Linked DNA regions of Homo sapiens: all the other regions are reported to be linked to region 4. The links are microRNA targets in miRTarBase. Many come from high-throughput screens and were not tested one by one. Region 4 holds a microRNA gene; each other region holds the end of a gene's coding sequence.
The links. Region 4 holds the annotated microRNA hsa-miR-4766-5p (UCUGAAAGAGCAGUUGGUGUU, at 2,336-2,356, opposite strand). A microRNA usually pairs through its seed, bases 2 to 8, with sites in the 3' UTR of a target mRNA and lowers its output. Matches are read on the target gene's strand: a 7mer-m8 pairs with bases 2 to 8, a 7mer-A1 pairs with bases 2 to 7 and ends in A, and an 8mer does both.

Region 1 (5,132 bases), not on the chromosome of region 4:
AAAACTTTATCTGTAGATAACAGTTATCTATCTACATAGGAAGATAGATGAGAGAGAGAGAGAGAGAGAGAGAGAAACCAATTAAAGTGAGTATAGGCCAGGCGCGGTGGCTCATGCCTGTAATCCCAGCATTTTGGGAGGCCGAGGCAGGCTAATCACCTGAGGTCAGGAGTTCTGAGACCAGCCTGGCCAACATGGCGCAACCCCATCTCTATTAAAAATTCAAAAATCATGGCCAGTGGCTCACGCCTGTAATCCCAGCACTTTGGGAGGCCGAGGCAGGGGGATCACGAGGTCAGGAGATCGAGACCATCCTGGCTAACACGGTGAAACCCTGTCTCTACTAAAAATACAAAAAATTAGCTGGGCGTGGTGGCGGGCACCTGTAGTCCCAGCTACTCGGGAGGCTGAAGCAGGAGAATGGCGTGAACCCGGGAAGCGGAGTTTGCAGTGAGCCGAGATCGTGCCATTGCACTCCAGCCTGGGCAATAGAGTGAGATTCCGTCTCAAAAAAAAAAAAACAAAACAACAACAACAACAAAATTCAAAAATTAGCTGGGCATGGTACTACATGCCTGTAGTCCAAGCTACTTAGGAAGCTGAGGCATGAGAATCGCTTGAACCCAGGAAGCGGAGGCTGCAGTGAACCGAGATCGTGCCAATGCATTCCAGCCTGGGTGACAGAGTGAGACTGTCTCAAAGAAAGAAAAGAGAAGAGAGTACAAAAGTTTCCTTCTTGGCCTGGCACAATGACTCAAGCCTGTAATCCCAAGACTTTGGGAGGCCAAGGCGGGCAGATCACCTGAGGTCAGGAGTTCGAGACCAGCCTGGACAACATGGCGAAACCCCATCTCTACTAAAAATACAAAATTTAGCCAGGCGTGGTGGCGGGCACCTGTAATCCCAGCTACTCGGGAGGCTGAGGCAGGAGAATCGCTTGAACCCAGGAGGTGGAGGTTGCAGTGAGCCGAGATCGCACCACTGCACTCCAGCCTGGGCGACAAGAGCAAAACTCTGTCTCAATAACAACAACAAAAAAAACCTTCTAAAATCCCAGTCAAATGTTAAACCAGACCTGGTAAAACAAAACTTTGTACGTCAGTGAGACACCATCGCCACCTTGTGTTCAACAGCCTTCATTACATCCACATTTATTGCAAATGATCACCCGTGGGATTCTCAACAATTACAGAATATAGCTTTATTTATAGAATCTTACAAATAAAACATTTACAGTCCACATAAGTTAATTTTCTTTTCTAATTTCTTCTCATACACCTGAGTTATTTAAAAAAATACTGTGATGGAACTGCAGAACTGTAAAGGGAAATAAGAACAATAAAATCCTAACCTCTCTTGCAAAAATCAGACAACTTTGTTTTAAAGTAGATGCCCAGCATATTGCCATCTCTTTGGAAGAGGACTTACTATACTCAGCTCTTACGCTACCCAAACAGAGAAGCCTTCTTTTTAAAACCCAAGGTTAAGGACCAGTGAAGAATAGCTCCAATTTGACACTAGACACAAAATACCTTTGGGGGCAAAGACAGGGGCAAGCTGTGTGCCGGTGGTGAAGTGAGAAGGAGCAGAACCCCTGTCCCTGCCTCACTGTTCCTGCACGTGACATACACTTTCCTTGCTAACTTATTAATAGGAGCTGGTGCATCTGGAAAATGAGGTCGAAGCTGCTAATGCCAGGGGTGAAAAAGTCCTCCCACTGACTTGCTACTCCTTAGACTTCTAATATGTACAAATGCTTGAAACAGCAAATTCAACAACTAAAAATCAAAAGAAATTGCCAATTTTTGACTCATGAGGCAAAGCTGTTGCCACAATCAGTGGCGACTCAAGTCAGACGATGTGAGCGTCTCCGCCCCTCCTAAGCTCCGACTAGGACTGACCTCTGCGCCAACTACGGTTTAAAGAGGATTTCCCTTTGAGGCAGCTGTCTATGGAAGGAAATTTCTTAAGGTAATATAGGTGTGCACAAAAAGGGAAAACACCCTATTTCATTTTTCAATTTGTTAAAGATTATAGTTTTGAGCTCCTCTCCTAAACTAGAAATCCACTAACTCTAACTTAGTATTCTACTCCAAGACAAAGGGTATTATGTTTAAGGAATGATAGGATCTATTGGGAATGCTAAAATTATAAATTTAATACATCAATGCGAGTTAGGTTAAAGCAAAATCTTCCAGAGTCTTCAACTTTGAGTTATTTTCTGCTAGCTCCTGAAAGCAGCTTGAGAAAAATAAAACAGAAAAGACAAAGAACCGTTTAAAAACAACAATAATAATGACAATATAAAAAGTTAGATTCCAACATTCAAGGAATTGGTTCTTTGGTAAAACTGGACCATAATCCCACCAGGAAATCAGTCCTGATATTTAATCTAGAATCTCCATCACTGAAATTTTCCCTCTTCAGCGTATTCTCAAATGTATTGAAGCCAACAGGCAAGATAAAAACAAAACTTAAAAAAAGTATCACCAGCAGTTTTTCCTGCTCACGTTCTTTTCAAGAATATTCCTGGTTTGACAGATGTCTCCCAAGAAGAGAAAACAAAACGGATGCTGCTTGTGATTACTGAGAGCGGACAGTTTTTCTATGTAAGAGAAAAGCTCAGGCATTGGTAGTGAACCAGTACTCCTGTCAGCCATGCACATGAATCAGTTTGCAAACATGGCCCCTGGGCTCCAACTGTGGGCACCACTAAGAAAGGCTTCTGGAGAGACAGGCTCCCCAAAGTGGCTAAAGAATCTCACATTATCAATATGATAATAATAAATCAATTCACCTAGTGAACCTGGAGAAGAGCTCCCCTTGAAGCCAGAGCTCGGAGGCAAGGGCTCCACAGTGGCTAAGGCTGGCCTACAGTTTTAAAGACAAGTTATCTCCATCCATTTTCTGGAGAGAGTTAGAGAAATTCATATTCAATTCAATGCAGGATTCGACTTTTTTTGCAAGGAAGCAGTAACCTAGACGGGTCATTTAAAACCCATCTGTAGCATAATCATTAGGCCAACCATTCTGCAAACATCTGCGATGCCCTAAGTGAAGTTTGTGCCCTTACATTTCAGAGACCCCCTATTAGTCATGCTTTGATTTATGGAAGCGGCAAATCCTAAATTTTGCCTGCACTGATTCCATTTCTGATTACCCTTGTCTAAGTAGAGCATAAATGGCACCCCATTTCTACAAGTCAGCTTGCCACTCTGCAGACGTCTCAACCTGGGGGAGGATAGTTTGTGCAGTCTCCCCTCTAACACAGAGGTCTCAAATGTGCTCAGAATGTGCTTCTAGGAGGCAGCTACAAAGTCTCTTAGAAGATGGCAGTGGGGAAGAGGAGGTCAAAATCACAGCCAAACCAACTGTTTTCTTGCAGACAGCCTGAGCCTCCATTCTGTCAGCGTTAACCTGAAAGAGGAGGTCCAGGCAGCCACACCGCCACGTTAGCTCACTCGGACAGCCGTGAAACACCAGGTGCTGTTACAAAATCAATATCCAGCATCTCAGTAGGAACAAGTGAGCATCCTGACAAGACACACAGCAGTGGTTCGACTTCCTCTCCCATTCAGGATGAACCTTGCCTCACCTCTCACCCTGCTCATGTGTTCTGACTTCAGGTTCTCTTTGAGAGAAGTAATAGGCAATTAAACAGACTTTGAAAAAATGGGAAGGCTTCCTGTCTCCTGTCTCTTCTATTGGCCAGCTGGAGGTCCAAGGTGCCCAGCTAGAGTCATGGGCCCCACACTATGGATTCAACTCTTGATATTTCTAGCCAAGTTATAACCATTGGCTCTATTTTTGCATTGTTGGGTAAAGGATTCAAAACCTTTCAGCACTGGTTCCAAGAGGAGGCCAAGGTAATCAGAGAAAAAAGTCAGGCTTGTCTTGTAAGCTGCATTCAGGTTCCAGAGTCACTGAGAGAAAAGGAGGTGAGGAGAGGGCAAGAGGCACTAGCTAGAGACTGGTTACCAGGGCAGCTTATTCCTAGGATACAGCATTTTACAAACGGCTGACATTTGAATGCAGGAATACAGTCTGTGTCAGTTTTTCATAGAACGGCCTCTTCCGTGGTGCATTGTGGATGGTAAGTCCTCGGGCTGGCGATCGGGCAGCCCAGGGCCCGACTTCCAGTCCCACAGGCTCTTGGCAGAGCCCTACCCAATCTGGATCTGTCCTGAATACATGGTGAGGACCACCATGATGGTGAATCCAGTCAGGAGGCCCAGGTTCTGGATGATAAATGGAATCAAGATGCTGCCCTTCCTTTCATCCTCTTGACAGACCTCATTCATCTCAGGGAACTGGGAAAGAAGCAAGAAACAACACAGCTGCAATTCCTTCTTCATCTTGTAAGTCCAGGGCAATTCAGTGATGGAGATATAGATCAGGTTGGTTGACAAAGAAAATTATCAGGGCCAGGTGCAGCGGCTCACTAGAGGTCAGGAGTTCGAGACCAGCCTGACCAACATGGTGAAACCCTGTCTCTACTAAAAACATAAAAATTAGCTGGGCGTGGTGGCGCAGGCCTGTAGTCCCAGCTACTTGGGAGGCTGAGGCAGGAGAATTGCTTGAACCCGGAAGGCAAGGCTGCAGTGAATGGAGATCACACCACTGCACTCCCGCCTGGGCAACAGAGCGAGACTCCATCTCCAAAACAAAACAAAACAAAAAAAGAAAATTAACAATAGCAGGTACCATGTCTTTACAACTGTCTAGGTAAAACAAAGTACTCAACGTGTATGTGGCTCTGGATGAGTTTAGAGGCTGGCTAAAAATAAATGTACTCTGATAAAAAATAAACTTTATATTATAGACTTTTTTTTTTCCTTTTTTCCACTCGCTCTTGCCCAGGCTCGAGTGCAGTGGTGCGAACATAGCTCACTGCAGCCTCAAACTCCTGGGCTCGAGCAATTGTCCCACTTCAGCCTCCTGAGTAGCTCCACAGGTGCCTGCCACCATGCCTGGCCTTATTATGGACTTTAAACACTTTAAGAGGTCTTTTTGTTATCAAGATATTATTAACAAGCTAGATGCAGTGGCTCACACCTATAATCCCAGCACTTTGAGAGGCTGAGATGGGAGGATCCCTTGAGGCCACAAGTTCAAGACCAGCCTAGGCAGCA
Region 2 (5,132 bases), not on the chromosome of region 4:
CTTAGTAAACATAAGATAATTCATACTGGAGACAAACCTTACAAATGTGATGAATGTCACAAAGCCTTTAACTGGTTTGCAACCCTTACTAACCATAAGAGAATTCATACTGGAGAGAAACCCTTCAAATGTGAAGAATGTGGCAAAGACTTTAACCAGTTTTCAAACCTTACTAAACATAAGAAAATTCATACTGGAGAGAAACCCTACAAATGTGAAGAATGTGGCAAAGCTTTTAACCAGTTTGCAAACCTTACTAGACATAAGAAAATTCATACTGGAGAGAAATCCTACAAATGTGAAGAATGCGGCAAAGCTTTTATACAGTCCTCAAACCTTACTGAACATATGAGAATTCATACTGGAGAGAAACCCTACAAATGTGAAGAATGTGGCAAAGCTTTTAATGGGTGCTCCAGCCTTACTCGACATAAGAGAATTCACACTAGAGAGAATACCTACAAATGTGAAGAATGTGGCAAAGGCTTTACTTTATTTTCAACCCTTACTAACCATAAAGTAATTCATACTGGAGAGAAATCCTACAAATGTGATGAATGTGGCAATGTTTTTAACTGGCCTGCAACTCTTGCTAATCATAAGAGAATTCATGCTAGAGAGAAACCCTACAAATGTGAAGAATGTGGCAAAGCTTTTAACCGGTCCTCACACCTTACTAGACATAAGAAAATTCATACTGGTGAGAAACTCTACAAACCTGAAAAATGTGACAATAATTTTGATAACACCTAAAACTTTTCTAAACATAAAAGACACCATCCTGTTGAGAAACCCTAAAAATGTGAAGAATTTGACAAAGCCTTCCAATGATTGTTACACTTGCTTGTAGGTAAGATAATTTATATTGGAGAAAACTTTATAAGTGTAAAGAATGTGACAAAACTTAACCAATACTCACATCTTATTGCACAGGAAAGCATTTTTACTTGAGAAAGATTGTACAAGTATAAAGAATGTGAAAAAGTCATTGATATCTTTTCACATCTTACTCAACACCAGAGTTTATACTTATTAAAAGCATTATAAATGCAATTACTGTCAAAAGAAATTTCAGAAAACATAACACTTTAAAGTGAAGAAGCGTGTTTATTTTGAAGACAAACATAACAAATATAAGGAGCATAGGAGGGTTGTAGTACCTTTACTTGTATTACAAATCTTATTGTACGCATTTTGTACTAGAGAAAAACACTGAAGCAGTTGCTCAAACTTTGTTCAACATCAGGGAATTTATATTGGAGAAAAATCCTGCAAATGTAATGAATTTGGAAAAACATTTTTTTTCAAAAACTACGGCGTAGAAAACATGAATTTATATTGAAATGTGTTTTTGCAGATGCAGTAAGTATGAAAAATATTTAATCCAAAATTGAGTCTATGTAAATATTAAATAATTTACAGTAGAAATAACTAAGGCACTGACACTTTAGACATTACACTAAAACAGAGTGTTGAGTATAAAAAAATCTATAAGTTGTTAGATTATTTGTAAATAACTTTAAAAGGAGTAGAAGATTCTTTGGAGAGTTATAATTACATTGAAAGTATACTTTTTTTCTTGAAAAAATTATGGCTTATTTGAAAAGTAAATAATGATGAAATTCAACTCTCAAATTACTTTATTTCATTCCTATTGTATTCACATGTGAAAGCATGTGATAAATTGTTGCTGTGTCAGATATAGGAGAGATTCTTTTTTATTAGATGGGCATTATTTATGGTTTTTTCTGTGGAAGAGTATGGGCATTAAAATGTAAGGTTTATGATGAAAATCTAAGTGGAGAGGCCCTGTTAGTTTACTTTTCATATTGAGTGATGCATGAGGTAGGTGTTTGGAGTAATATTCTGCATCATAGAGAAAAGCATTTTTAATTTTACTTTAAATTAAATGTAATTAAATTACTAGTGAATCATTTTACTAATTGTACTTTTATGCTATAAATGCAGTACATTTGAAAATTTTTAGATTATGTATAAGCTTAATTTTATAATTAAACATTTCTTTAACATGTTAAGACTATTGTGCATTCAATGAAGCGTTATTATGCCATTAACTTTAACCTTTTTCACTTTACTCAAGGAGGGAGGTAAAAGAGAGTAACAATATGTTATTTGGTCATGAGATGTTAATCTTTCTGTGCCTGGCTTATTTCAACTAATATGCTGTCCTCCAGATTAACTGATGTGATCAAAAATAATAAAATTTTCTTTTAGATTCCACATAGCAAAAGCAAGAGTAAGAGAAAAGAACAAATCTGGAGGCATCACATTACCTGACTTTAAACTATACTATAAAGCTTTAGTCATCGAAACAGCATGGTGCTGGTATACAAATAGGCACATAGACTATAAACGTGTGTGCAAGTATCTTTTTTCATATAATGCCTTTTTTTCCTCTGGATAGATACCCAGTAGTGGGATTGCTAGATCAAATGATAGATCAACTTTTAGTTCTTTAAAAAAATCTCCACACTATTTTTCATAATGGTGCTAATTTACATTCACACCAGAAGTGTAAAATTGTTCCCTTTGCACCACATCCCCACCAACACTATATTTTTTTATTTTTTAATTATGGCCATTCTTGCAGGAGTGAGGTGGTATCATATTGTGATTTTCATTTGCATTACTCTGATAATTAGAGATGTTGAGCAAGTTTCCATATGTTTCTTGGCCATTCGTATATCTTCTTTTGAGAATTGTCTATTCATATCCTTAGCCTACTTTTAAATGAGATTGTTTTTATTTCTTGCTGGTTTATATGAGTTTTTTGTAGATTCTGGATCTTAGTCCTTTGACAGATGTATAGATTGTGAATATTTTATCTCACTCTGTGGGTTGTCTGTTAACTCTGCTGATTATTTTTGCTCTGCAGAAGCTTTGTAGTTTAATTAAGCCCCATCTGTTTATATTTGTTTTCGTTGCATTTACTTTTGGGTTCTTATTCATGAAGTCTTTGCCTAAGCAAATGTCTAGAAACGTTTTTCCAATGTTATCTTCTAGAATTTTTACTGTTTTAGGTCTTAGATTTATGTCTTATGTCTATCTTGAGTTTATTTTTGTATAAGTTGTGAGATGAGTTTCCAGTTTTATTCTTCTACATGTGGCTTGCTAAACATCCCTCCATTATTTGTTCAATAGGGTTTCCTTTCCCCACTTCATGTTTTTGTTTGCTTTGTCAAAAATCTGTTGGCTGTAAGTATTTGGTTTTATTTCTGGGTTCTCTATTCTGTTCCATTGGTCTATATGCCTATTTTTATATCAGTACCATGCTGTTTTTGTGACTATGGCTTTATAGTATAAAGTTATGTAAACTTTAGGATTGTCTTTTCTCATTCTGTGAAGAATGATGTTGCTATTTTGATGGGAGCTACATTGTATTTCTAGATTGCTTTTGGCAATGTAGTCATTTTCACAATAGTGATTCTACCAATCCATGAGTATGGGATGTGTTTCCATTCGTTTGTGTCGTCCGTGATTTCTTTTAGCAGTGTTTTGTGGTTTTCCTTGTAGAGGTCTTTCATGTCATTGTTTAGGTATATTTTTAAGTATTTTTTTTCCAGCTATTGTAAAAAAAAGTTGCATTCTTGATTTAATTCTCAACCCAGTCACTGTTGGTGTATAGCAGAGTGACTGATTTGTGTACATAAATTTTGTATCTAGAAATTTTGCTGAATTCACTTGTCAGTTCTGGGAGATTTTTGGAGGAGTCTTTATGGTTCTTTAGGTATACAATCATATCATCAACAAATAGTGACAGCTTAAATTCCTCTTTGGATGCCCTTTATTTCTTTCTCCTATTTGAGTGCTCTGGCTAGGACTTCAGTGCTATGTTAAATAAAAATGGTGAAAGTACACATCCTGGTGTTGTTCCTGTTTTCAGAGAGAATGCTTTCAACTTTACCCTGTTCAGTGTTATGTAGGCTGTGTGTTTGACATAGATGGCTTTTATTACATTGAGATATGTCCTTTGTATGCAGATTTTGCTGAGGGTTTTAATTATAAAGGAATGCCGGATTGTGTCAAATGCTTTTTCTGTGTTTATTGAGATGATCATTGTTCATAATTCTGTTTATTGGTGTATCACATTTATTGACTTGTATATGTTAAATCATCCCTGCATCCCTGATACAAAACCCACTTGATCATAGTGGATTACCTTTTTGATATGTTGTTGGATTCAGTTAGATTTTTTTTTTTAAAGGATTTTAGCCTCTGTGTTCATTAGGTCAGTCTGTAGTCTTCTTTTTTGGCTATGTCCTTTTCTGGTTTTGGTATTAGGGTGATGCTGGCTTCATACAATGAATTATGGAGGTTCCCTCTTACCGTGTCGTGTGGAATAGTGTCAATAGGATTGGTACCAATTTTCCTTTTAATGTTGGGTAGAATTCTGCTGTGAGTCTGTCTGGTCTTGGACTTCTTTTGTTGTTAATTTTTTAAATTACGATTTTAATCTCACTGCTTGTTATTGGTCTGTTCAGGGTTTCTGATTTTTCCCGATTTAAGCTAGGAGGGTTGTACATTTGCAGGAATTAATTTATCTCCTCTAGATTTTTGTGTTTATGTGTGTAAAGGTGTTCATAGTAGCCTTGAATGATCTTTTGTATTTCTGTGATGTCAGTTGTAATATTTCCTGTTTTGTTTCTAATTAAGCTTAATTGAATATTCTCTCTTTTTTTCTTAATCTTGCTAATGGTCCATCAATGTTATTTATCCTTTAAAAAACCAGGTTTATGTTTCATTTGTCTTTTTTTCTTTTTAATCTTATTTAGTTCTGCACTGAGCTAGGTTGTTTCCTTTCTTCTGCTGGGTTTGGGTTTGGTTTGTTCTTGTTTCTCTAGTTCCTTGAGGTGTGACCTTAGTATATTGTGCTCTTTCAGACTTTTTGATGTAGACATTTAAAGCTATGGACTTTCCTCTTAGCACGGCCTTTGCTGTATCTCAGAGGTTTTGATAGGTTTTGTCACTATATCATTCCATTAAAATTTTTAAATATTTTTTGTCTTGATTTTATTGCTGACCCAATGATCATTCAGAAGCAGTTTATTTAATTTCCATGTATTTGAATGGTTTTAAAGGTTTTTGTTGTTAACTTTCAATTTTATTCCACT
Region 3 (5,000 bases), not on the chromosome of region 4:
GTGTCCAATATGGCTGAGCTGGCTTAATTTTTTTGTAACCTGATTGATATTTAACAGGGTTACAGAAATCCTCTTTTTTCTTACAGAAAACAGTCCGTGATAAAGAGTACAAGGCCCTTCAAATAAAACTGGAACGGTTAGAGAAGCTGTGCAGGGCTCTTCAGACAGAAAGGAATGAGCTCAATGAGAAGGTGGAAGTCCTGAAAGAGCAGGTATCCATCAAAGCGGCCATCAAAGCGGCGAACAGGGATTTAGCAACACCTGTGATGCAGCCCTGTACTGCCCTGGATTCTCACAAGGAGCTGAACACTTCCTCGAAAAGAGCCCTGGGAGCGCACCTGGAGGCTGAGCCCAAGAGTCAGAGAAGCGCTGTGCAAAAGCCCCCGTCCACAGGCTCTGCTCCGGCCATCGAGTCGGTTGACTAAGATGAGGTGTGATCACTGTATTGAGAGATATATTTTGTGTATAACTTTCTCTGTTAGTAGTTAACTATTGGTTTTGTGGTGAAAATTTTCTTACTTTTTCTACCATATCTGTATTTTCTTAGAACTACTGGACTTATGTGGTACAGGAGGCTGCTTAGCAGTTTTGAATAGTTTAATCTATAAATTTTCCTCAGCTGTGTTGCACATCAGCCTCGTTCTCCCTCCACTGGAATGCATGTGTTCATTGCCTTGTCCTTTCTCTCCCTGCTCCTTGCACATTATCATCCTAATGAAAATTTCACTGACAGGGCCGACCATTACAAGGGAACTTTGTTCTGACGATGGTTCCTTGATGTGAAAACAATATTAATTTAAACGTCTTAGCCCCCCCCCCCATAATATTATTCAGAAAAACAAAATACCAAGGCGATTAGTTTTGTCTAATAACCCATTTAAATGCCAAGTAAAAATAAAACTCCTAGTGTTGGGTCAGAAGCATATTTGATTGAAATTAGCTTTTTGAAAACATTTATATCTCGGGACAAATTGAGATGGCCACATGCCTAGAATCCTAAGTTTCGGCAGAATATGTATATAAAGATGTCACTTGTGGACAAAATAGTACATAGAGGCAAATCACTAGACAAATAAGCTTAGTGTTTACGTGACTGAACAGTCATCCTGCTTTGGTTTCAGGTGTGGGATTTGGACCATGAGGGGCTCCCGTAGAGGATGGCGGTTTGTGTTTGATTCTGATTTGGGATTTCAGTACATATTCTCCACTTCCCATAGAAGGCCACTTATTCTTTGAAAACTGGTGTTCATGTTTGCCGTTCAATGAAGTCCCTTGTCAAAGACAAGGACGGTCAATTCACGTGTCACTTTCACTAGGCAGAAGTTTCTCCAATACCTTCTGGCTACTTGAAAGTTACTACAAAAATTCCACCAGCAAAGTACTCCAGGTTTTTCAAAAGGGAATTTTCATTATGGATCAGTACCAACCGAAATTGATTTTCATTTCCAAAACAAACACTGGCACCAACATTTTTACTTTGGGAAGACTTGGCAGAGTGTTAGTCATGATCTGTTACTTACGTGTTCAGTCTGTTTTCTCACCCCCTTCTTAGTTACCATCTCTTTTTTAAGAAGAAAAAAGAAAAGCCACAGTATTATCAAGGTCTCTACACTTGGACTGGGGGAAAATTTGAAATTAAGCACATAACTTTTGAATTAGTTCTTTGTTTCAATGTTGAATGTGGCGCAGTTATGCAGATGATTAATCAGGCTGCACTGATGGAAGTTTTGACTTTGTCCCTGGTATAATTTGCATTGAAATGCTTTATGAAATAAAAGGTTCTACTAGAACTGATGTTAGCACATTCCACTGAGCAAAACTATCAGACTGACACTTGTTAAATTGCTTACTGGACTGAATAAACTCTGTTTTGTCCAGTTAAAAGGGTTTTCTCTTTGTTACAAGTGTTATTTGTAAAGTCCTGTCACATTCATGGTCGAAACTGGGTTGAAAGAATTGAAAATTGTCCAACAGATAGATAGATAGGAAACCGCCTGGAGTGGAGGAGGGTTGTATCTAAGCCTCCACTATCAGTCATGTTAATTCAAGGGGCCACAGTGGAGGAAAATAAATCCACAAAGTAGATTATCTAATTACCATCAAAATGAGTCAGAAGCAAAAAACACCACCCTCCAACAGCCTCTTAGGAGTACACCCTGTTCTGCTACTAAAATACTAGACTCATTTCCCTGGTGGTGGGGGGGAATGCAGGTATAGATCAGAAATATAATCCACCTTAAAATTAGTACTAATGATCACATTATTTCACAAGAACTCTGCTGGATGTACAGCTCTTAACATTTTATTAAGCCATTTGTGTAGCCCACCACGTTTCTTTGTGGTGCTTGTCCTGTGTGGAAGATTGTAAATCTTGGGCCTGTTGCATACTTCCAAGGGCTTTAAAGCAATGTGATTAACAGTACTTGGCCTGCTGCTTTTGGCTTACTTTGTATTTTTAGCTAGATGCTATTATAGTGTTGAAAGGATATGGATTCTGTCTGGGATGCATTTGTTGTCCTTTCAGAACCCTTCCTCCCATTACCCTGTGAATAAAAACAAATGGGACCCCCTGAGAAGGACATCTTCCTACAGTGATCACCTCACCAGCCCAGTGTTGTGGCTTTGTAGCGCACCCCGTATCTACCATATTCTAGAACACTGTAATGCTACTAGGCTGGCCCAGAAAAGGTTTAAATGTTGAATTCACTTAAATTGCAATTGTTGCACCATCATGGAATCGTGATGTGTATTATTTATATTGGCGGTGGACTCCAAGGTGTAGAGAAAACTTGGGTCTTGGGTAATATGGACCATTTCATCCTCAGACTTGTTAGGAGTACATTTCTTGGTCTTGAGACCAGTATTTTTCAGTTATGTATGCAACTGCCTTTATTACACCTGGTTATCACAATTCAATTCTCAGGTGTTGCAGAAAAATCTACCTCTTTCAGACTGTAGATGGAAATAACTGTGAAAAAAATGATGCAGATATCTTCTAGTTTGTGCTAAACACACTGCTTTATTTTTACAGCCCACGTCTTTCATGAGGATACGAATTGTTAAGAGGCAGTCTCGTTTTGCTTTTCAAAGACATTTTGTAGAGATTTTTCACTAATGTGAATCTGATTTTATCTACTTGATTCTGTATAGATTAAGTAAATATGTATGATAAACTTAACAGCTTCTGTGTATTCTTTCATTATCCATGTGACCTTAACTGTAGGAGTCCAAAGGTACCATTTTACCCATTTCTACTCAAAAAGTAGACTCCCCCGCCCCCCCCCACTAAGCTTTTAAAAAAACACAAGTTTTATTTTAAAACTTTATTTCTGCAAAGCCAATCAAGAAGTGTTGGAAGGAAAAAGTGTAAAAGTTATTCTTGCATATTTGGGAACAGCAAGCACTTAGTTTGAGAAAATGAGGACTTAAAACAGTTGAATCAAAGGCAATACCCTGCTACTTGTATTTAAAATCAATGGTGATGTTCTTTCTTAAGCAACATTCTTCTCTTCCCTAATAGCTACAATATGATACAGTACGCAACAGCTCACTTGAAAGTGCTAGAATCAGAGGATAAAGAAGCCATAAGCCACCCCACTTACATTTCCTACTATACAATGCCTTTTTGGCGCTTGATAAATCAAGCATTCATGTAGCATTACATTCAACAGAAACATTTCTCGTACTTTGGGTTTAAGATCCTTGTCCCTCCAGTTCGGATGTCGTGACATCTGACTCTTCATCATTGTAAATATTTTCAGCCTGGAGATAACCAAATAAATTCACAGGTAAAAACTCCCTATGGTTTTCACATGGTCATGTAAAAACAATTTAATCTATTTAGAACTTAATAGTTTCATTTTTACATTTCTCTCTTAAAAACTTCAATAAGGAAATGGTAGGCTAGCCAGTATTTTGAAAAATTCTTTGCCAGTGTGTAATTCCGTATGTATACTTAGCCACCCATCGATGCACTACTTATTTCAATCACTGTTCATAAGAGATGTTTTCCAAAGGCACTTCAAGCATCGTTTAGAGGAAGTGGTAGCCCAGATGTTATGGAAGTCTCGGTTAACAACAACTTAGAAATGTCAGCTACTTAGTGCTCATCCTCAGAGAACTTGCTGTCATTTGAATGCCTTGACCTCTCCTTCCTGTATCCCTCATGCCTACCACACAGAACAGACACTGGAGACAGAGTAGCGACGCCAAGACTCCAGTGTATGAAGAGCACAACAACAATGAAAATCAGTGCAGATGCAGAGATTTCTCCTGACCTGACAGGTGCTACAAATAGCAAACAGTGGACGAAGCACCATATGGGACTAAAGATTGTATTGTTGAAATGGAAAAAGTTCTTTTAAACGGTTTCTGTAAATGTTTGGCATAATATGCACCTACATATTCGAAATAACTTTATTACATTATGTAAGTAGTAAATCTCTCCTTTACAAGACAGTCATTCAAGAAAAACATTTTAACTCACCATTTGCCATATCTGCATGATGTTATCCTCAGACACTGAGCAAATGACCCAAGGCTCATTGGGGTTCCAGCTAAAATCTGAAATCTTAGCAGTGTGTCCTCCATGAATAAACTGTTACAAGAACAAAAAAAGCTTTGATTTCATATACTCTCCTGTTAATCCTAACAAAGGTTTTACTAAGTTTTTAGAGCTATCAGTATTTCAACTGGGGGTGGGTGCTGTCTGGTTTTAGAAGGTGGTACAGGCTCAGTAATCTATTTATACTTATTTTGCAAATTTCCAAACCTCCAGAATAGGTGACAGAATATAGTACAATGGATACCTGTATACCCTTTACCTAGATTCACCAAGTGATACTAGCATAACTGATGCTTTATCCATGAGCCTATACAATGAAATGGCTGAAGACTTCAGCCTGCATCCCTTAAGAATGAGGACATTTTCCTAGTCAAAATGCCATTTCCATACTGATTATGATGAACATTAATCCAGCATCATTTGCTCATATACAGTT
Region 4 (5,132 bases):
TGGCATCTGCTTCTGGTGAGGGCCTCAGGTGGCTTATGATCATGGTGGAAGGTGAAAGGGGAACAGGTATGTCACATGGTAAGAGAGGGAGTAAGAGAGAGAGGCGTGGGTACCAGGCTCTTTTAAATAACCAGCTCTCCCATGAACTAACAGTGAGAACTCACTCATCACCAAGGGGATGGCACCAAGCCATTTATGAGGGATCTGCCCCCATGACCCAAACACCTCCCACTAGGCCTCACCTCCAACACTGGGGGTCACATTTCAACATGAGATTTGGAGGGGTCAAACATCCAAACTGAGATTTGGAGGGGTCAAACATCCAAACTGTATCAGTCACATAAACGATTTTTAGCCTAAGTTCTTGGGGATTTGGGGGTTCCTCTTTTTTGTGAACAATTCTGAACTGACACCTGGATTTCTTTCTTTTTCTCTTTTTCTTTCTCTCTCTCTCTCTCTCTCTTTCTTTTTAACTTATTTATTTTTAGAGATGAGGTCTCACTACATTGCCCAGGCTGGTCTCAAACTCCTGGCCTCAAGTGTTTTGCCTGCCTCAGCCTCTCAAAGTGCTATGATTACAGGCGTGAGCCACCACGCCCAGCCTGGCACCTGGATTTCTTAAGAATGCATCATCATCTACATTTCAGGCTACTTACTAAAAAAAAAAGATGGTTTATTCATTCTGGGCTATATCTCTCCTGTAAATATCTAAAGTATACTTTTTAATTTGGTCAACACAATCCACATATGAAGTTGGGCTTACAGATAGAGTAAGAATGAAACACTGGGTAAATCTGGTCAAGACTTGGTCCCCCCAGCGTGTGCAATCTTATGGGAATAATAGATAAGAACATACATAAATACAGAAGCATATTTTCATGCCTTTTAAGCATAAAACAATGATGTTTGGGTTGGTATACCAACCAAATCACCAAATGTGACTGACTGTTTCTAAAATGTTGATTCATCCTAGCAGGGTGAAAACTAGTGGTGGGGGTAAAAAAGACAATGCTAGTCCAAAATCAGTTTCCAGAGGGGTCCCGACGTGGCTGAGTCACAGCAGCACCACTGAAATCAATGTATAGCCTCTCCTGATTTAGAACACTGCATTATAGAACAGAAAGATTATTTTAAAGCCAGACACGGTGGCTCACACCTGCAATCCCAGCACTTTAGGAGGTGGGAGAATGGCTTGAGCTCAGGAGATTGAGGCTGCAGTGAGCTGTGATCATCCCACAGCACTCCAGCCTGGGAAACACAGTGAGACTTAGTCTCAAAACAAATAAAAATTTAAAAAAATTTTTAAAAACCACCTAAGATGTTTTCTGTGGTTTGAGCTAATAAAATTCTAAAGATTAAAAGCCACTTACAATGGCTTTCATATTTAAAAATGTTATTCACCTCATCAGAGTTAATGTAAGTCTTTTCCCTGACATAACAATCAAGCTAACTCATACATACACAGACAGATAGGCAAGTTACACAAATGGCCTCATGGATGACACTCTCGAGTGTTTAGGGATAAAATATAGGTTTACGTCCCAAGTATAGTATATATTACATAAGTAACTTCAAATCTCTATGTCTCAATTTCCTCATTTGTAATTTTGAGACCGGTATTTGTCAAGGTTGCTATGAGAAGTTAGAATCAAATTATGGAAAGTAGCTGGGCATGGTGGCTCACACCTGCAATCCCAGCACTTTGGGAGGCTGAGGTGGGTGGATCACTTGAGGTCAGGAGTTCGAGACCAGCCTGGCCAACACGGTGAGACCTCATCTCTACTAAAAATACAAAAATGAGCCAGGAGTGGTGGCACACACCTGTAGTCCCAGGTACTCTGGAGGATGTGGCAGGAGAATCACTTGAACCTGGGAGGCAGAGGTTGCAGTAAGCCGAGATCGTGCCACCGCACTCCAGCCTGGGTGACAGAGCGAGACTCTGTATAAAAAAAAAATACCCTCTCTATTAAAAATACAAAAAGATTAGCCGGGTGTGGTGGCAGACACCTGTAGTCCCAGCTACTCGGAAGGCTGAGGCAGGAGAATGGCGTGAACCCAGGAGGCGGAGCTTGCAGTGAGCCGAGATCACGCCACTGCACTCCAGCCTGGGCGACAGAGCGAGACTGAGTTTCAAAAACAAAAACAAAAAATTATGGTTGGCACCTAGCATCATACCAGGCACACAGGTGGCACTCAACAATTGTTGGTTTCTACATGTCCTTTATAGCTATAGTATCTGTTAGTAGTAGAAACCACTGTTAATTTTAGGGCCCTAAAAGGAGTAATGTCTTCTCAAGTTCCTTCCAAAAGAGCAATTGCTATTTAGTAAAAAATAAACACCAACTGCTCTTTCAGAAGGAGCTTCAGAAAGGTAGAAGGGTCAACAGTATAGAATACTTACAAAGAACTGGAATCAATTAAGAATGCAAAAACAGTCAGTAGATGTATAGAGCACTCTTGACATAAGTAACTCCATCTTAGAAAAAGACTCCTATCTTTCATTTCAAAAAGCACTTTGACAACAGGGACCAGATGTTTTTCCAGATAAAGACACAACCAAGCATGCTCTTCCACTATCAGTCCTTACCAGAAGACTCTGTGACCATAAAAAGAACAGGACTTAAAAAACTCAAAATGGTCTTAACAGACACTGTCTTGCTGTCACTTGTTATAAAAGCCTGATATCTGTGTCCAAAGGCTCTGCCCACATCAAGGATTCTTTCTTACAAGACCAACACACTGCCATGATGAAACCAGGATACTTGTCTATATCACTCTCCCCGGACTGGTTAGGTAACCCTTTTTCCTCACCCTTTTCTCTTGATGTTCAATGTTACTTTGTTGCAGAATGTTTAATCTACATCATTTATGTATTAATTAGGTATACTATTATATATGATTTACAATATTGACTGACTACCTAGTGAATGAGAAGTACTAATAAAAATTGCCTCCTTGAGAACTCCATGTAACTTGTCTTTTATAACTGAAATAACACAATAAAAGTCTGACATTGTGAAAAGACACAAATGTGTGTGTACCTGGTTATCCATGACCTTAAACCATTCACAATAGTAGATTAAGCTGTTAGGAAGTCAGAGTTGACCTTTGGAAGAACAGTTCCAGTGGTCAAAGTAGGATGAGGAAAGGCAGTACGTGCAGAATATATATATATATATATATATATATATATATATATTGTTGTTGTTGTTGTTGTTTTGTTTTGTTTTGGTTTTTTTTGTTTTTGAGACGGAGTCTTGCTCTGTCGTCCAGGCTGGAGTGCAGTGGCGCAATCTTGGCTCACTGCAAGCTCCACCTCCCGGGTTCATGCCGTTCTCCTGCCTCAGCCTCCCGAGTAGCTGGGACTACAGGCGCCTGCCTCCATGCCCGGCTAATATTTTGTATTTTTAGTAGAGATGGGGTTTCACCGTGTTAGTCAGGATGGTCTCGATCTCCTGACCTCGTGATCTGCCCGCCTCAGCCTCCCAAAGTGCTGGGATTACAGGTGTGAGCCACCACACCCGGCCCAGAATATTCTTTAAATAAGCTTAGCACAAAGGGAAAGAGAACAGGCAGAGGCTGAAGAAGCTACCAGATTCCAGATCAGATTGGTATAGTTTTCTGATGGGACAGACCTGACCATGTTTGAGGGCTGAACAGAAGCAGATACTAGGTTAAAGCTATAGGAAAGAGATGAAAATTACTGGAGCAAAGTCCTGGAAGAAAACTGGCCATGGGCTGGAGGGGAGGACAAAGATTGAAGGTAGCAGACACTGAATATGTCTATTTTTCCTCTGAGACCAGCAGAATGTAGAAAACACGAGTACAACTGTAATTGGAAAAAACTGAAAAAACTCATCCCAAGTAGGTTCTATTTTATCTAGAGAGTAAAAGGTAAGATCATCTGCAACAAGTGAAGGGAATGGGTGGAGATGGCCATGAGGCAAGAGAACATTTCAATTCCCTTAAATTTCTAAAACTAGGTATAAGTGCTGTATTTGCAAGAATATACTTGAGACAGAAATGAATAATTATGGTCTTACTACAACGTTCCATTATGCTAGATGCTCCACAAATATAATCACATTTACTTCCCACAAGAACCCAGTTAAGTGAGGCATTGTTATTGTCCCTGTTTTATAGTTCGATTGATGATGGCATTCATAGTTAAGCTTTACTACAGAACCTTTTTTTTCAGCTATTATGCCATATTTGCTTCTTAAAAAATTAAGTTATACAATACTATGTATGACGATATAATTTCATTAATCGTTTTTGATTCAGGCATAAACAAAGTTAGAAAAGTAATTCCAGGCCAGGCGCAGTGGCTCACGCCTGTAATCCCAGCACTTTGGGAGGCCAAGGCAGGCGGATCACCTGAGGGCGGGAGCTCAAGACCAGGCTGACCAACATGGAGAAACCCCGTCTCTACTGAAAATACAAAATTAGCCAGGCGTGGTGGCACATGCCTGTAAACCCAGCCACTCGGCGAGAGGCTGAGGCAGGAGAATCGCTTGAACCCAGGAGGCGGAGGTTGTGGTGGGCCGAGATTGCATCACTGCACTCCATGCACTCCAGCCTGGGCAACAAGAGCGAAACTCCATCTCAAAAAAAAAAAAAGAAAGAAAGAAAGAAAAAGAAAAAAAGAGAAAAATAGGCAACAAGTGAAAAAAAGAAGTATCTTTGTAGATTAAATAGAAATATATTACCACTATTGCCAGTCACTCTCTCTATAGCAGGAGTCAGAAAACTATGGCCTATGGGCCAAATCCAATCTAATATCTGTTTTTGAAAACAGTATTTTATTGGAACACAGCTCTGTCCATTCATTTACTGTCTACAGCTGATTTCACACGACCATGGCAATGTTGGGTAGCTGTGACAACGGTACACAAAGCCTAAAATATTTCCCATCTGCTCTCTTTAAAAAGTTTGCCAATCTCTATGTTCTTTTATAGCACTTAACTGTATCTAAAATTATTCTACTTATTTTTTATTTATTCATTTATTTTTTATTGTTTTTTTTTTTTTTTCTTGAGACGGAGTCTTGCTCTTGTCACCCAGGCTGGAGTGCAATGGCACAATTTTGGCTCACTGCAACCTCTGCCTCCCAGGTTCAAGTGATTCTCCTG
Region 5 (5,114 bases), not on the chromosome of region 4:
ATAGTTTCTACTAGAAATACAAGTGAAACTATCACTGGCCGTAAGTAATTGTAAAATGACAAAAGCAAAGCTGTTCGATTCTAATAAGCTGCAGTGGCTGCTGGAGGTGAGTCCCAGGCCCACCCAGAGCAGGGCAGGGCCCCCGGGCCAGGGTGAGCCCCAGGCCAGGGTAGAGGTGGCATAGACAGCGGTTATGGGGACAGACATGTAGCACAGCTGGCGCTACCGCCACGTGTAGTAACTAGATGCCAGGAGCGGGTACAGCTGGGCCTGGCCCATACCAGGGTAGGTTCACGGCCGTATCACGCCCTTGGCCCTGCTGGCAGCTGAGGTCGGCAGAGTCTGGGGCTCTCCCTTCACTCCTCCTCCCTCCTCTCCCCGCTGTGTGTCCCGCAGACTTGCCTCCTCATGCGGCAGCAGCACGAGGCCGCGGCCCTGAACGCCGTGCAGAGGATGGAGTGGCAGCTGAAGGTGCAGGAACTGGACCCCGCCGGGCACAAGTCCCTGTGCGTGAACGAGGTGCCCTCCTTCTACGTGCCCATGGTCGACGTCAACGACGACTTTGTATTGTTGCCGGCATGACACCGCGGGACGGCCGCAGGACGCAGGCGAGGGCCGCACGGCTGCCCAGGACTGCTGCTGAGCCCCAGGGGCGGAGGAGGGAGCGCCCTGTCCACCCGGGCGGGGAGAGACCCCGAGAGAGACTGCACTTGGCCACAGCGCCTCCATCCCTTCCAGACTGGTCCAGACGTCGGGGAGGTGAAACACGTCTCTTCTCTACCAGCTGCCGCGGCGGGGGCAAAGCCCCCAGAGCCTCACTGGCCCCGGCGGGATGAGGAGACCATGCCGGGCGCGCACACACGGCAGCTTCTGTTTGAAAACGGCGACCTTCGGGCCCTTTTCTCCAGCAACTGCAGAGGCATTTCAGGAGTTGGAGAACGGAGTACATTTTTAAAATTTTTTGTTCCATTCTGATCAACTAAAGAAAATTAAGGTGTCCACCTCTCACAAACAGTGACCTGCAGGTCGGAGGGGCAGGAGCCCCATCCCAGCCGTGGTTCTGTTGCCGCCGAGCTGCGACGGCCTCAGACTGGGCTTCAGACCTGGTGCGGAGCCAGGCGGAGGGACACAGAGCCAGGACTCCCAGCCGTATTGAAATGGAGTCAAATCCGCGTGGTTTGTATCTTCTTTCCTTTAATCTTGGGCATTTTGTTTCTCTTTCTGAGAACGTAACTTGAAACACTACAGAGCCAATAATCATATAAAAAGTGTATCCGTAAACGCTGTACAGTTTTATATACCTTCACAATGTACTTTTGCTGCCTTCTAGATAATTTATTTTGCAACACATTACTGCACAGTTGTAAATAACTTATGTACTGTAACATCACTTTCAGTTATGTGTAAAGAAATAAATAAATTAATTAAAATGCTCTTTGTACAGTGCGTCCCTCCAGGAGAGGGGCTGTGTGTGGGACTGACACAGTGTCGCCCCTCTCGACGACCTTCTTACTCCCAGGACAGACGTGGTGGCTCACGCCTGTAATCCCAGCACTGTGGGAGGCCGAGGCGGGAGTCTGAGACCAGCCTGCCCAACATGGCAAAATCCCCTCTCTACTAAAAATACCAAAAATTAGCTGGGTGTGGTGGCGCGCGCCTGTAGTCCCAGCTACTCCGGAGGCTGAGGCAGGAGAATCGTTTGAACCCAGGAGGTGGAGGCTGCTGTGAGCTGAGATCACGCCACCCTACTCCACAGCAGACTCTGTCTGAAAAAAAAGAAAACCTTTTTCCTACCAAGTTGTTAGCTTTTAATTTTGAAACAAATTATCTGTTCCCCTCGTCCTCTGCCTTTGCACAGACCGGGAATGCTGTGGAATTACTGCCTCTTGTAGGAGCTGGAGAGAAACAGGAGCATCACTCCCCACGGATCTGAGCACTGCAGCCGTGGCCAGACCCCGTGGCCAGCTGTGCACGCCCCTGAGCTTCAGCTTGTGGCTGGCTGGCTTGTGCCCCTGCCCACAGTTCCCTGGCAGCTGCAGCTGGTGAGGGTCCGCGCTTTGAGAGCCCTGTCCTGGCTGGAAGGCAGCTCAGGCAAGCATGGAGATGCGAGGCCTCTGCTCAGAGGATCTTGGCACAGAGGATGCCTGCCAGGACCCTCCAGCCAGTGTGGCTCCAGGAGACTGTTGGCCCCCGGCGTGACAGGAGGGTGAGCTGATGGAGGCGCCTCACCCTTTTCCTTCTGAGCTGTCTGTCCCCTGTACCTGGGTGCTGGGGAGGGAGTGGCAGCTACAGAAACAACCCCCACAGAAGAGCAGACACTGCCCGTGCATCAGAATCAACAGGGTCCTGGTCACTGGGTCCCCTGCGGAGGAGCCCGACCTGGGAGGGTCCCTGAGCCCTGCCAGGCTGAGCCAGTGGCGGGGGCAGTGGCTTCATTCCCCCAAAGGCTGCTGTGAGCTCCCTCGCCAGCTGGGCCCCTGCGTGGGGTTGGGGGTAGGCGTGGGGCCATGCCCCCTCTCCTGTCTTCGATCTGTGAACAGAACTTTTGTGGATTCCCTCCTGTTCCCTTCAGGGCTGAGCCTGAGCAAAGGCAGGGTTGTCCACCTCATTTACGGGCTTGGGGTGGGGGTGTGGAGAAGCCAGAAGGTTCCAGTCTATTTTTCTGGGTTCGGATTAGCTGTGGTTTGTTTTGGGGGCTTCGTGGGTTTTTGGGGGTTTTTTGCTTGCTTTTGAGATGGAGTCTTGCTCTGACCCCCAGGCTGGATGGAGCACAGTGGCGCAATCTCAGCTCACTGCAGCCTCCACCTCCTGGGTTCAATTCTCCTGCCTCAGCCTCCCGAGTAGCTGGGACTACAGGCGCCTGCCACCACACCCGGCTAGTTTTTGTATTTTTAGTAGAGACGGGGTTTCACCATCTTGGCCAGGCTTTTTGTTTTCTCCACACCCCCTCAATCACAGAACTTTGGTCACAGTAAAACTTCCTTTAAGCCCTGCCTTAAAAGAAAAACCTGAGTCAGCCTGTGTCACACAGAGCACGCTGCAGTTCCAGCCCACAGTGGTGACGACGTCCCGGCCACCATGCTGTGCCTCCCTGTCTCGGGTGCCCACGAGGGGTGTCAGGCGAGAGCAGCTCCCTTCCGGCCCCCACCCTGGTCTGCTGGAGTCTCGGCTCCCGTGCACCTGCCAGAGATGCCGCACATGCGACTCCCAAACAGCCTCCTGCCATAGGGGACGAGAGACAGCCTGCCGCCCCTCAGAGAGACTTGTGAATAAACACTGAGAAACGTCAGAGTACCCAGAACCGCAGGAGCCTGCGTGCCAGCCTGGAGACCCTGCTGCCCGGGGCCACCCATGTGGGCTTCAGACCGCTCTCGGGAGTCTCTGGCTGGAGCTGGAGGAAGATGGCGTAACCCCACTCGCTCAACTACATCCATGGACCCCAGCGCTACCCAGCTCCTGCCTGGGAGCCCGGGCTCTGGAGCAGGCTGGCTCTGAGGGTCCACCACCTGTAACTCAAGCCTTCCTGATGCCTTCCCTTCCGGAGGCTCTGAGGACTGCCATTAGCAAAAAAAAAAACAAAAAACAAACAAACCCAAAGCACAGAGCAGGTGAGTGCTCGGACCCTAGGCACTTCAGGGAAGCCAGCACCCCTCCCTGGCACAGGGTCCCCCTCTCAGGGAAGCTGGCGCCCCTCCCCGACACAGGGTTCCCCCTCAGGGAAGCCGGTGCCCCTCCCCAGCCGAGGGTCCCCCTCTTAGGGAAGCTGGCACCCCTTTCTGGCACAGGGTCCCCCTCTCAGGGAAGCTGACACCTTGCCAAGGCGTAAGGCCCCAGGCTTCAACAGAAAAAGGAAAGAAATATGGCGGCTTTTGCTGCTGTAGAAGAGAAGCTGGTGGCTTTTGTAAAACCTGGAAGGAGGTGAGAGGTTTTTGTGGAAAGCCCGTGAGCCGTCAGCTCCCCGCACAGAGAGCGCCTGCTCTGCCCAGGAGACCGTGCAGCATCTGGCAAGACAGGTCTCCATTCAGGGGTCGCCATTTCCAAGCGGCAGCTGGGCCTGGGCCTGAGCCTGGCAGGAGGGGAAGGGCCCCAGCACGTGGAGCCGCACACAACCTCCACCCACCTCCCCCCACACCAGGGAGCTGCTTTCCTCCTTCCCGCTGGGGGACAGCGAAGACAGTCTCACAGGAGAGTAGAAGGAACTGGGCCCAGCTTGGCTCTGTTGGAAAGCAGAATGAAATACTGAAGCTAGAGAGAGGGACCCACAGGCAGTGAGAAGGCAGCCGTGGCATCAGCAAGAGCTCAGCTGTGGCATCAGCAAGAGCTCAGGGACGAGGTGCAAGTTGTACACCACAGCTGGGGGAGTGCAGTGGTATAAACCCCAAAAGCCCCATTACTGGGCACAGAACGTCACTCACATCTGAAATTACCTGTGATAAACTGGAAACATGGCTCACACCTGTGGTCCCAGCTGCTTGGGAGGCTGCAGCAGGAGGATCACTTGAGTCCAGGAGCTCACGGCGGTAGTGCACCGTGAGTGAGCCTGCGAACAGCCATTGCCTTCCCACCTGGGCAGCTCAGCAAGATCCTGTCTCTAAAACCAAAAATCAGGCTGGGTGTAGTATTTCACACCTATAATCACAACAGGAAGCCAAGGCAGGAGGATGCTTGAGCCCAGGAGTTCATGTCCAGCCTGGACAACATAATGAGACCCTGTCTCAACAACAACAACAAAGAACAGGCATGGTGGAGCGCGTCTGCGGTCCCAGGTACTCGGGAGGCTGAGGCGGGAGGATCGCCTGAGCCCAGGAGGCTGAGGCTGCGGTGAGCTGTGATGGTTGCTCCAGCCTGGGGGACAGAGCAAGACTCTGTCTTCAAAAAAAAAAAAAAAAAAAAGATACCAGCCGGGTGTGGTGGCTCACGCCTGTAATCCCAGCACTTTGGGAGGCTGAGGCAGGTGGATCACGAGGTCAGGAGTTCAAGACCAGCCTGGCCAACATGGAGAAACCCTGTCTGTACTAAAAATATAAAATTAGCTGGGTGTGGTGGCACAAGTCTGTAATGCCAGCTACTCAGGAGGCTGAGGCAGGAGAATCGCTTGAACCCGGGAGGCGGGG

Region 1: miRTarBase lists SLC39A14 as a target of hsa-miR-4766-5p. Seed matches in the 3' UTR shown: 7mer-m8 at 3,418-3,424 and 7mer-m8 at 2,232-2,238.
Region 2: miRTarBase lists ZNF680 as a target of hsa-miR-4766-5p. Seed matches in the 3' UTR shown: 7mer-A1 at 1,070-1,076.
Region 3: the mRNA of TXLNG is a reported target of hsa-miR-4766-5p. Seed matches in the 3' UTR shown: 8mer at 2,518-2,525 and 8mer at 2,945-2,952.
Region 5: miRTarBase lists ANKRD11 as a target of hsa-miR-4766-5p. Seed matches in the 3' UTR shown: 7mer-m8 at 1,391-1,397.

What each region holds. Positions count from the first base shown.
Region 1 is chr8:22,418,730-22,423,861 of GRCh38, reverse strand. SLC39A14 (solute carrier family 39 member 14) reads right to left here. Exons shown (of 9, transcript NM_001128431.4): 9 at 1,126-4,310. The coding sequence ends at 4,164. Among named protein-coding and RNA genes, the nearest start is that of PPP3CC, 20 kb to the left of the region's middle.
Region 2 is chr7:64,516,782-64,521,913 of GRCh38, reverse strand. ZNF680 (zinc finger protein 680) reads left to right here. Exons shown (of 4, transcript NM_178558.5): 4 at 1-2,036. The coding sequence ends at 753. Among named protein-coding and RNA genes, the nearest start is that of ZNF680, 44 kb to the left of the region's middle.
Region 3 is chrX:16,841,342-16,846,341 of GRCh38, forward strand. TXLNG (taxilin gamma) reads left to right here. Exons shown (of 10, transcript NM_018360.3): 10 at 87-3,178. The coding sequence ends at 425. It overlaps RBBP7 (RB binding protein 7, chromatin remodeling factor), which reads right to left. Exons shown (of 12, transcript NM_002893.4): 11 at 4,487-4,597; 12 at 3,000-3,762. The coding sequence ends at 3,694. Among named protein-coding and RNA genes, the nearest start is that of RBBP7, 27 kb to the right of the region's middle.
Region 4 is chr22:40,811,592-40,816,723 of GRCh38, forward strand. It overlaps MIR4766 (microRNA 4766), which reads right to left and starts at 2,367; the gene lies at 2,292-2,367. All of the region lies in intron 1 of SLC25A17 (solute carrier family 25 member 17), which reads right to left.
Region 5 is chr16:89,263,946-89,269,059 of GRCh38, reverse strand. It overlaps ANKRD11 (ankyrin repeat domain containing 11), which reads left to right. Exons shown (of 13, transcript NM_013275.6): 13 at 397-1,430. The coding sequence ends at 582. Among named protein-coding and RNA genes, the nearest start is that of ZNF778, 49 kb to the right of the region's middle.